Regions from separate parts of the Homo sapiens genome. Here region 2 is linked to region 1. Evidence: fine-mapped expression QTL. A gene starts in region 1. The other region holds a variant in brackets. All regions are shown on one strand. Distances are between the middles of the regions.

Region 1 (5,368 bases):
TTAGCCAGGACAACCAGATTCCTTCCTCATCCTCCCCACTGGCCTTGAAAGACCCCTTGCCCAGCACACGGGCACAGAGCAGATGGTGCTGCGAGTTAGGGTCACCAGAGAGCATGTGGGGGACTCTGAAAGCTCCTGCAGGGTCCCATGAGCATTTCTTTGAAGCACTAACTGTGGAATCCTGAGCTCATACCCATCTTCTTCCCGGCCTTGCCCCCTGGTGCTCAGGGCCCTTCCAGTGTTCCTCCCTCCTCTATGGGCTGGAGCTGGGGCTGGGGCTGGGGCTGGGCACTATGGGACAGCAGGCAGGCAAGGTGCCTCCTTAGCGGAGGGAGGCAGAGGCAGTACCAAGAGGACAGGCACTATCAGCGGTGGCCCAATGGCTGCCCCTGGCAGGCAGCTCCTTAGCCACAATGTAACAGAGGCTCCTGGCCAGTTGGTGGGATGCGCCCGCCCACCTGCTTCCCCTTTGGGTTGGGGGAGAGGAACCATTTCCCCCCACGCACTGTGCAAAGCCAGGAGGAGTACCGCCTCCCAGCTAGGTCTCTCGTTACCCATCTGTAAGGCTGAGTGGGAGAGACTGAGTACTTCTTCCCCTCCATCCTGCAAGGTGCGACCCGGGCTAGGTTTCCTGGCTCCTGGCAACAGCCTCAGCTCTAGCATGAGAATGTACCTTTTTTGCTGGTTTTGTCTCCACCTGGATGCCGCTGCCTGTGCTGGGACAGCTTTTCTCAGCCCCTGCCCCAAATCCCTAATTCCACCTTTATCCCAGGCCCAACCTCAGCCATCTGGACAGAGCTAGACCCAGATTAGCATCTGTTAGGGGCTACTCTCTCCTAGGGAGGGGGTGGGAAATATCACCTTTGAGGCAGGGGGAGTGAGGGAGCAGCTCTCAGAGCTGGACATTTAACCTGCGCGGGGTTAACACTTACTGTGCACCGTTGCTCATTTCCAATTGCACCTCCCCATAGAGCAGCCTCTGCCTAGCCTCTGCAAGACCTGCCCCTCGCCCCACCCTGGAGCATTTGGGGTGGGGGACCTGCCCAGCCTGCCCCACGCTGGCCTCCCTTCCAGGGGGTGGGGTCCTGCCTATCCCAGCCCCGCCTCCTGGCCCAGGTTCAGGCCCTCCGCCCCTCTTGGCCGACGGCCTCCTCTGGCAGTCTGTTCCAGGTCAGGAGCAGAAAGCGCCCCCCCGAAGCCCCCTCCTTTCCTCGTCCCCCTTCAAGCTTTTCACAAAAGCAGCCCCACGCCCCCCCACAGCCCACAACCCACAAGTCCCTCTCCCCGCGGGACCTAGCCTGTCCCTTTCATGTTCCCGCTGCGGGAGGACCTCCCCTTCCACCACTGCAGACAGCTGCTTGTCAGACAGCCCCTCAAGCATGGCTGTGGTCCGGCCTGCTGGCCCCCCCTCCCAGGGGGGTGAGGGGGCACTTCAAGGGGGAAAGGACCGCTTTGCCACCTTCCCTGAGTCCTGAATGGGGCCTCAGCCAGGCCATAAACGCCCGGCCAGCCGCACCATTGTGCTAGTTCCCCTCCAGAACAGGTTGGGCCCACCCCCAGCCCCCTCCCAGCCAGGCTGGGGGCTTTCTTCTGGCTCCCCCTGGATGTGTGAAGCAAAAGGCCTGGAACGGGGCTGGAGCAAAAGGGGGAAGGAAGGGGGGGGGAATTGTCTCTCCCTCTCCCACCCCCCCACTGCTTCAAAGGCTGCCCCTTTCCCTCTCCCAGAGAAAAGGCATTTACCTTCAAAAAAAGTCCCCACTGGATATGAAGAGAAGCGGGCCTCTGGCCTGGGAAAGCCAAGCGATCTCTCCCCAGAGCGGTTCTGGACCAGTGCATTTTAATAGCTGCACTTTTATGGAGGATCACAAAAAAGGGAGCAAGCCTCGCACTGGGGGCTGAGACTTGGGGGTGGGAGGTGTGCATGGAGGGAGGTGGGGGGCCGACTTGGGGTGGGGGGAGTGTGGAGAAGCGAACCCTGCATCCCGTCCCAAACAAACCTCTTTGGGCTTGACCTCTGTGCCCTCTAGGTGAGGAGTCACCTCACCCTGGCCAGGCATTCTGGACATGCTCACGAGACCCCCACCCCAGGCATCCATATTGATGGGAGTGGGGTGGCGAGAAGGACATACAAGTGGTCTTGCATCAAAACCTGTCCTTTCAGGTACTGGCAAACCCAAGCCTCACCTGAGCCATCACCTCCACCTGCTTCCAACCGCTCCAGGCTCCATCCCTCAAGTCTGGGGGAACCCGATGGAGAGGGAGGAAGAGGAGCAGAGACCCAGGGGAAGTGGGGAGGGTCCTCAGAGGGAGGACAGAGACAAAACCTCAGTCAGCCCCCTTCCCTGCCCACCCGGTCAAAGGCTCACTCCCCTCCAAACCTCAGTGCCTCCTGGACCCAGGGAGAGGCCAGACTCTGCCTCTGTCCACCTGAAAGGAGCCGGTCCCTTGCACCCGCCCTGGTCAGGTAGGGTGGAAAAATTGGGGGAAAGCCGGTGGGAATGCCCGCCTACCTGAGTTTGACAGCAGAGAATCAGCAGCTGTAAGCACCTGTGTGGGGAGAGGAGGTAAGCCCAGGTGTGGGTGCCAGCTGCAAGCCTAGGGTGCACCCAGGCCCCCGCCCCCGCCCTGCCAGCCCCGTGCACGCACGCGTGGGAGTCCCGGGAAGAGGAGGGCTGCCCTGAGGCTGGAAATGGCAACGAAACTCCAGTGGGAGAGGTAGCACACTTACAGAGTGAGGTTGGGCAGCAGGCGGGCGGCTCCCATCGCTGGAGAGGTTCCTCAGGCGGTTGCCCCCCTGCCCCCAAGCTCAGGAGCAGATGTGGGAAGTCCCCAGGGGTAGAGTCCCAGAGAAGCCAAGGTCTCTCCGAGCCACAGGTTTTCAGGGGGGCGAGGAGGAGAGAAAGGGGAGGAGGAGGAGAGAAAAGAGGGAGGAGGAGGGGGAGGAGGAGGGCGTAATTGGGAGACTGAGGTATGAGGTGTCCACCTTCCTGGCCAGTGAGGCTGCAAAGCAGATGCGGGTGGGGGCGTGCGCGCTGTGCCCTCTGGGCTGCCAGTCTCTCCTGGGCCACCCAGTGCAGGGATGGAGCGGTGGGGGCCTTCTGAAGGAGGTGGCCCTGCTGTCTCCTGCTCTATTCCTGACCCTCACAGACTGGCCAAACTCGACGCAGACAAACTCGATGTGTGGCAGGTCAGGGAGGGGGAGCCCTTCCAGGTCTGCGTCTCCTGCACTCAGGTCTGGCGCCCCACCTCCCCAAGGGTGAGCCGCAGGTGTCAAGTGGGGCTGGGGTCTCTGGTTCTGGCTCTGGAGTGGAAATTCCCAGAAGCAGCCTTAAAAGGAGCCGCCTCCCTCCAGGGGGCAGGGGTGGGCTTGGCTTGGAGCAGCTGATTGCCCGGGAAGGAGGGGTTAAGGCTGTCCTGATCGGCAGCAAATACTGGGCGCAACAGGTTGGGGGTCAGAGGTGGGTTGGCAGGTACAGATGGAGATCTAGGAAGAATCCCAATGGAGAGTTGCAAAAGCTAGCCTGAGACAGACACTTGGAGAAGAGCTGGGTGTCCTGGCCTAAGCCCCTTTTCCTTGGGCCTCTGTAGTTCCATCTGAGAAATGAGGACAGTAATGCCTCAGGGTGTTGGGGGGTCAAGTGTGAAATCAGCACATAGCAGACTTCAAGATGTCTGTGTTCTGAGACCCAGCTCCACTCACCATTCTGCATCCCCTTCCTTCCAGTGCCTGTCCCTAGAGCCTCTCTGAGCTAGGAGCAGCTCGGAGTCCCCTCCCTGTGTCCCATGTCCCTGAGCAGCTGCCTGGGATGAAGTGCCTACCAGCCTCTTCCCATGACCTCCGGTCTCATACTGCTCGGTACAATGCCAGCGACTAGCCCATTTTGCAGATGAGGAAACTGAGGCACATTGGGAGGTAGTTTGCTCAGAATGGCCCAGCTAGTGAATGGAATAGCCAGAATGGAAAAGTCCATGCTTCTTCTGTTCTGCATGGATTGAGTTGCCACCCTGCAGATCCAGCCCCAAACCTGCTTCATTGTAGGGATACAGAAGCCTTCCTGGGTTTTCAGGATTAAAGGTGGAATCCGAGGTCCTGGAGACCGGTGAACAGAGAGCTCCATGCTGTTCCCTCCCTACAGAAAAGTGGATGACGGTGACTGCAGAAGATAGGAGGGCTTGGGGGTCTCTGAGGGAAGACCCAGTGTGAGCAAGCAGAGCTCAGGCCTCAGCTCTGGGCTCCCTGGAGTTCTCAGCGCCCCCAGGGTGGGAAGGGAAGGGGAAGTGGCGGATGTGGATTTATTTACCTAAAGAGATGACCAGGGGAGCGAAACTCTCACCTGTGGGTCCCTTCTCACCTTCCTGAGCTCCATCAATCCACAAAGTGGTCTGCCACCCCTGCCCCCATGCACTGACCAGTGCAGGCAGCTCCGGGGTCTCCTCTCCGCAGGCTCTTCCTCGGGAACCCAGCCCAGGAGTGGGTGCTGCCTGAGCTTGTGTGGGGAGGATGGGGCAAGCCCTGGCCTTGCTTACCTGGGGGAGTCCAGGGTTTTGGAATGCAACTCAAAGAATGTCAAACCTAGAAGGGGTCTTAGGGATTCATCATTTGTTCCAACTTCCTCATTCCTTGGATGAGAGCCAGAGAGGGCAAGGGACTCGCCCAAAGCCTCACAGCTAGCTGGTGGCATGGCTGGGACAAGGTACCAGGTGCCCGCGTGCCCACCTCTCTGCTTTCCCCCTGCGGATCCTTCAGGTCACTTCTGTTCCGCGTTCTTCCCATCATCTGCAGTCTGGGTTACACTCTGCCTCTTCTGGCAGCTCTGGCTCATTCCCTGAGAAACCTTCAACCTCACATCCACATCCTCACCACTCCCAGCCCCCAGGCAGGGCATTAAAGAGAGCACAGACACGTGGAGGGGACAGCTCAGGCCTTGGGTTGGTGGAGGTGTCAGCTGGGGGGCGAAAGGTGGGTAACGGTTCCAATTTATGCTGTCGGGACTCACTGGCCATGGGGACAGTGGGAGCCACTCAAGGCCTCTGAGCCCAAGCACCTGTTTCTATCCATGGGGACAGGGCCTGCCATCACTGGCCCAGCCCTCAGGCCAGCCTGGGTCTCCATGGTAACAGATGCCAGCAGTCAAGCTGGGCCTCGGGGCTTAGCCAGGGGGTTAGCTCTGGGCATGGCTGGATGGCCTGTGTCACAGGCAAGACAGCTGTGGCTCCTTGTCCCTTCCTGTTGGGCACCTGCAGGCCTGGCCTTCTAACTTGGTTTGCTCCTTTACGCCCATGGGGAAGCCAGTGGTGGGCCCCAAGTGGGGAGGCAGCATGGAGCCCTTGATTTTATCCCCGCCCCTTTGCCCTGGTCCTTATACGC
Region 2 (5,368 bases), 370 kb after region 1:
GAGGTGGAGCCTTTGGGAGGTGATTAGATCTTAGGAGTGGAGGGTTCCTGAATAGAATTTGTGCCCTTATAAAGAGGTTTGAGGGAGCTGCCAGCCCTTTCTGCCATGTGAGGACAGATACAAGCCACTATCTATGGGGGACAGGCCCTCACCAGCCATTCAATCTCCTGGCACCTCAGACCTCCCAGCCTCCAGAACTGTGAGCAATAAATTTTGTTGTTTATAAATTACCCAGTCTAAGGTATTTTGATGTAGCAGCCAAATGAACTAAGACACCCTGCATTAAGCTGCTGCAAGCTACCGAGTCCGGCTATATGCCCTGGGGTGTTTGAGGATCTATATCCTTGCAACTCCCCCTCCTTTGTCTTAGCTTATAGGAAGCACACGCTAAACTTACTTGTAACTTGACTTCCTTTGTTCTCCTTTTGCTTCCCCAAACCACCTACAGTAACGCTGAGCAAGACCAGTCCTAAACGGATGTTCAGGAGATTCTGAACTTAGATCACATGTTTAGTGTGTCCTGCTAAACTTCCTCAATTCCCCTTATGTCAGTACAAAATCTCAAATAATAGGAGGAACTAGAAAAAACTGGGGTAAACTTTGGCCACTAAATACTATTATAGTAGGGATGGCCGCGGTGAGTTCAGGTTAAACACAAACCACACCGTTTCCTGTCACACACCTGCCCCAGCCTCGAGACCCTCCTGCAGCTAGAACAAATTCCCTCTCCCTCATCAGACCACCTCCTTGAATGAGAAGACAATATTGCCAAGAAGTCAGTACTCCCTAGGTAATTTATACAAGTATATTACTCCCAGTAATATACCTACAGGTTTTCCCCCATGCTCCACTCCCTCGGAACTAGACAAGGTAGTTGAAAGTTTATATGGGAATAGAAACAAGCAAGAAATATGAAAAATATCTTAAAAAACAAAAAGCAGCAGGCTAATGAGTGGAGACTAGCCCTACCCGACAATTTGGAAGTACTATTGCCTGGATAGTGAAAGCAGCGTGGCATTGGCATGGATGGATACACCAAAGGGGTAGAACAGCAGGACCAAGACAGCCCAGAAGCAATGTAAGAATTAGGAAGTGATACGGAGAGGCAGATGGCATCTCAAATCTATGTGGTAAACATGAATTCTTAATAAAGGGTATTGGAACAATACAGTAGCCATTTCTGGAAAAAGATAAAATTGGCTCTGTACTTAATATCATGCATGGGGAAAATCTCCACATGGAGCAACAATTTAAACATTAAAAGCAAACCTAATAATGCTGCAGGGAAACTTGGAGTTCACTTTGGATGGGGATAGACTTTCTATGATTCAAACCAGGCACGGTGGCTCACACCTGTAATCCCAGCACTTTGGGAGGCCGAGGCAGGTGGATCACCTGAGGTCAGGAGTTCGAGACGAGCCTGACCAACATGGAGAAATACACTACTAAAAATACAAAATTCGCCGGGCATGGTGGCTCATACCTGTAATCCCAGCTACTCGGGAGGCTGAGGCAGGAGAATTGCTTGAACCTGGGAGGCGGAGGTTGTAGTGAGCCGAGGTCACGCCATTGCACTCTAGCCTGGGCAACAGAGTGAAACTCCATTTAAAAAAAAAATGAAGAATTTTGACTATATAAAAATAAAAATGATTTCTGCATGCCCAAAACACCACATGTGGAATCAAAAAGCAAGTGATACTGAAGAAAAACGAGTGAAGAACGTGAACGTTGAGTTCACAGAAAAAAAATGCAAATGCTCCTTCATCATTGGAATGGAATAGATGTGCAACTCATTCCTAATGAGAGAAATGCAAATCAAAACCACACTGAGAGACACCATTTCTCATCCCTCTGATTGGGCAAAAATACAAAAATTTGACAAAACACAGTGTTGGCAAAATTGTGGAAAATGATGTGATCTCTGCTATTGCAAGCAGAGCGTGACATGGAAGAACTCTATGGAAGGAACGTTGGTAAGGTCCAACAACATCATGGATGCCTTTACCCCTCCACCCACAATTGCACTCTAGGAATCTATCCTACAGGTACACCTGCACACGTATGAAATCACATGTGTACAAAGTCATTCATTGTGGCATTGTTCATAATAACAGAAGTCTGGAAAGGACCCAGCGTCTGTGCACCGGGGACTGCATGAAGTGTCCTGGCACATCTACCCAGTGGAAAACTCTGCAGTGGAGAGAAAGAAAGAGGAAAATCTCCATGTATGGATATGTAGACAGTCCCAGGATAGTTTGCTAAGTGAAAGAGGGAGGGACAGAACGTATAAATAGTATATCTTTTGTGAAATATAAGAAATAAGAATATATACATGTATATTCATTTGTGCTTGCATTTGCGTAAAGAAACATGGGGAAGATAAACAAGTGGATCGAAGGGTATTCTGTGGTAGAGCAGGCCAGGGTTAGGGAGCTGCAGGAGCCTGGATTCTCTGGGTTTATCTTTGTATGGAATTTGGAATTTGATGAATACAGATATATTACGTGACTTAGAAACCTGTGTTACAATCTGGCCAGATTAGAACAGTGCCATAGGTTGTGTGTCAAAATGAATCCAGAGTCTCCGGCTCATGTTTGTGGTGGGACCGAGGAATGCGCATTTCCCCACAGCCATGAGGTTATTCTGTGGTTTGGGAAGTTTGGGAAACTGTTGAAGCTCATGCTTTTGATGCCACTGAGGTTGCAAGGAGCCAATCAGAAGAGACGATCCCTGTGAAGGTCCCAACACTCACAGTGTCATGGTCCTCAAACCTGAAACCCCATGTCCAAGTCTGACCCCATGTCCACTCCTTCCCCTTGAAACCCTGACCCCACGAGGCCAGGCTCCCACCCCCAGAGGAGCACTGTGCTGTTGGGCATTTGTCTCCAGCAAGCCAAAGTATTTTGTCAGATTTTATTTTCCACAATTTAGAGTACAAAAATGGCACATTTATTTTTGTTTTAAAATATAAAATTACAGTTGAGCCTTGAACAACACAGGGGTTAGGGGTGCTGACTTCCCCACACAGTAAAAACTCTACTTATAACTTTTGACTCCTCTAAAACTTAACAGCCTACTGTGGACCCGAAGCCTTACTAATAA[CA/A]TAAAGTCAACGAACATAATATTTTCTATGTTATATGTTTTACATACTGTATTCTTACAATATAGTAAGCTAGAGAAAAGATGTTAAGAAATAGGAAAGAGAAAATATATTTACTCTTCATTAAGTGGAAGTGGATCATCACAAAGGTCTTCATTCTCGTCGTTTTCAGGTTGAGTGGGCAGGGGAGGATGAGGCTGGTTTTGTTATCTCGGGTGGCGGAAGTAGAAGAAAATCCGTGTATAAGTGGATCTGTGTAGTTCAAATCCGTGTTGTTCAAGGTCAACTGTATATTGTAATCTTTATTTTTATTTATTTTATTTTATTTATTTTTGAGACAGAGTCTCACTCTGTTGCCCAGGCTGGAGTGCAGTGGCGTGATCTCAGCTCACTATAACTTCTGCCTCCCAGGTTCCAGTGATTCTCATGCCTCAGCCTCCTGAGTAGCTGGGATTACAAGTGTGCACTACCACTCCCAGCTGATTTTTGTATTTTTAGTAGAGACAAGGTTTCGCTGGTCTCAAACTCCTGGTCTCAAGTGATCCGCCTGCCTCAGCCTCCCAAAGTTCTGGGATTACAGGCGTGAGCCACCAAGCCAGACCTATAATTTTGAAGACAGTTTTTCAAACTCCTCCTCCTCCCTCTGTAGGGAATCCTGATAGTTCCAATGGATATTCCTTCCCCACTCCCAAACCTCATTCAGGAAAAACTGATGGAAGATGCTTAAAAGAGATCCCTCTGGTGCTTCCTCCCCTCCCAGGAAACATTCCCTCCCCTTTTGTAAGAGCTAATGTAGTAAGAAAACCTAGGCCTGAGAGCTGGATAGGGGTTGCCATGCCAAGTTCCCTCTGGCCCTGTAAAGATTTCTTGAAAATCAACTTGCAAAAAGCAGATTAGTTGGAGAAAAGCCATGTAAATTTATTTAATGTGTGTACATGGAAACCTTCAGAATAAAGACCCAAAGATACAGAGGAAATTGTCCATTCTTAAGCTTCGGTTCAACAAAGGATGGACAGCTGTGTAGAGATATGATTGGACTAAAAGAGTCTGATATAATACTAACAGACTGAGTAGGAAACCCAGCGAGGCCTGTCTGTCTAGATTCTTCCTGGCCTCTTTGAGCAGCTTTCCTTCCTTCTGGGTGTGTGGCAGGCTTTCTCTGGAGTGAGGGTCTCATGACCTACAGTCAAACAAGGTAGGTCAGGTAATTTCCTTATGGCCAGTGTCTACAAAGAAAGGCAGGGGGAAAGTTAGAGTCATATTTTTAGGTTTTATGGCTGGCTTTGAAGAAAAGGGGTCCTGGTTTCTATGACCCAGCTTGGGGAAGAAGGATTCTAGTGTCTCTGGGTAGCCTCGAGGGAGAATGAGACCGGAAGGCAGGAGGGCAGGAGAAGGGCAGAGAAAGACTTTTGCTTCTGAGGCTGTTTCTGAAGCCTTCATTTTGGGGAGTTGTTTTCTGAGCCCCAATGCAGCTAATCTCCATGGAGCACTGCAGGGAGTAACCCATATCATGACCGTGGGGTGGGTACAGGGGATATGAGGCTGGTCTTGGTCCTTTGAGAGAGTCTGAGGCTGTCTCTGAGAGGCTATCTAGAAGTTAGGGAGATGTTTGTTTGGAGCTGGCACCAAGCATTGGCCCTTTAACTCACTTGGCTGGCTGAGAATGCTGCCAGGAGGACCCAGGAGGGCCCTGGGCCCAGTAAGTTTCTAACCAGGCTTTCTGTGGACCCACAGCCCAAGGGACAAGGTAGTGGCAGAGCTGTGCTCTGAGCCACGAATGCTGGCCACCTAGCTCAATGGTAGCACGGGGCCTCTAAAGCTTAGCCCTTTGCCCCATCTCTTTCCTGGCCTTGATTTTCCAGTTTGTTGCTTTTTTTTTTTTTTTTTTGTATCAGAGGACAATGTGTATCTCCTTCCTGCGTCTCCCTGAAGTCCGAAAGGACTAATGAGAGCCTGTCTTGGAAAAACTTGGGGTTCTTGACATGCTGCTAACAACTGGGAATTATGAGACAGAGATTGGATTTGCCAAACCCCAGCCTGTGGTAGGTATTGGGTGGAGGTGTTGGCAAGGGTAGCTCCATGTCTCTCCACCACCCTGCCCTGCCTGGATCCTGCCCTTGACCCATATGCACTGTTGTTTGCAGGTCCTGTTGCCCATGGCAACAATAATGTTGGAGGAGGGAGTAAAGGTAGCCATGAGACCTGGGACACCGCCCCTCTCCTCTGCCAACCTCAGTTTCCTCCCCAGGCAAATGAGAAGCTGCCCTA

What was found. PIP is the estimated chance that this variant, and not a neighbour inherited with it, causes the effect.
Region 2: its variant is fine-mapped to the expression of FGF17 in caudate (GTEx, PIP 0.96).

Annotation. Positions count from the first base shown.
Region 1 is chr8:22,040,324-22,045,691 of GRCh38, reverse strand. FGF17 (fibroblast growth factor 17) reads right to left here and starts at 2,872. Exons shown (of 5, transcript NM_003867.4): 1 at 2,729-2,872; 2 at 2,511-2,547. The coding sequence starts at 2,763. RefSeq lists enhancers at 555-604, 877-2,114.
Region 2 is chr8:21,667,575-21,672,942 of GRCh38, reverse strand. No RefSeq gene overlaps it. Among named protein-coding and RNA genes, the nearest start is that of GFRA2, 120 kb to the left of the region's middle. The variant CA/A (reference allele first, on the strand shown) is at 3,103.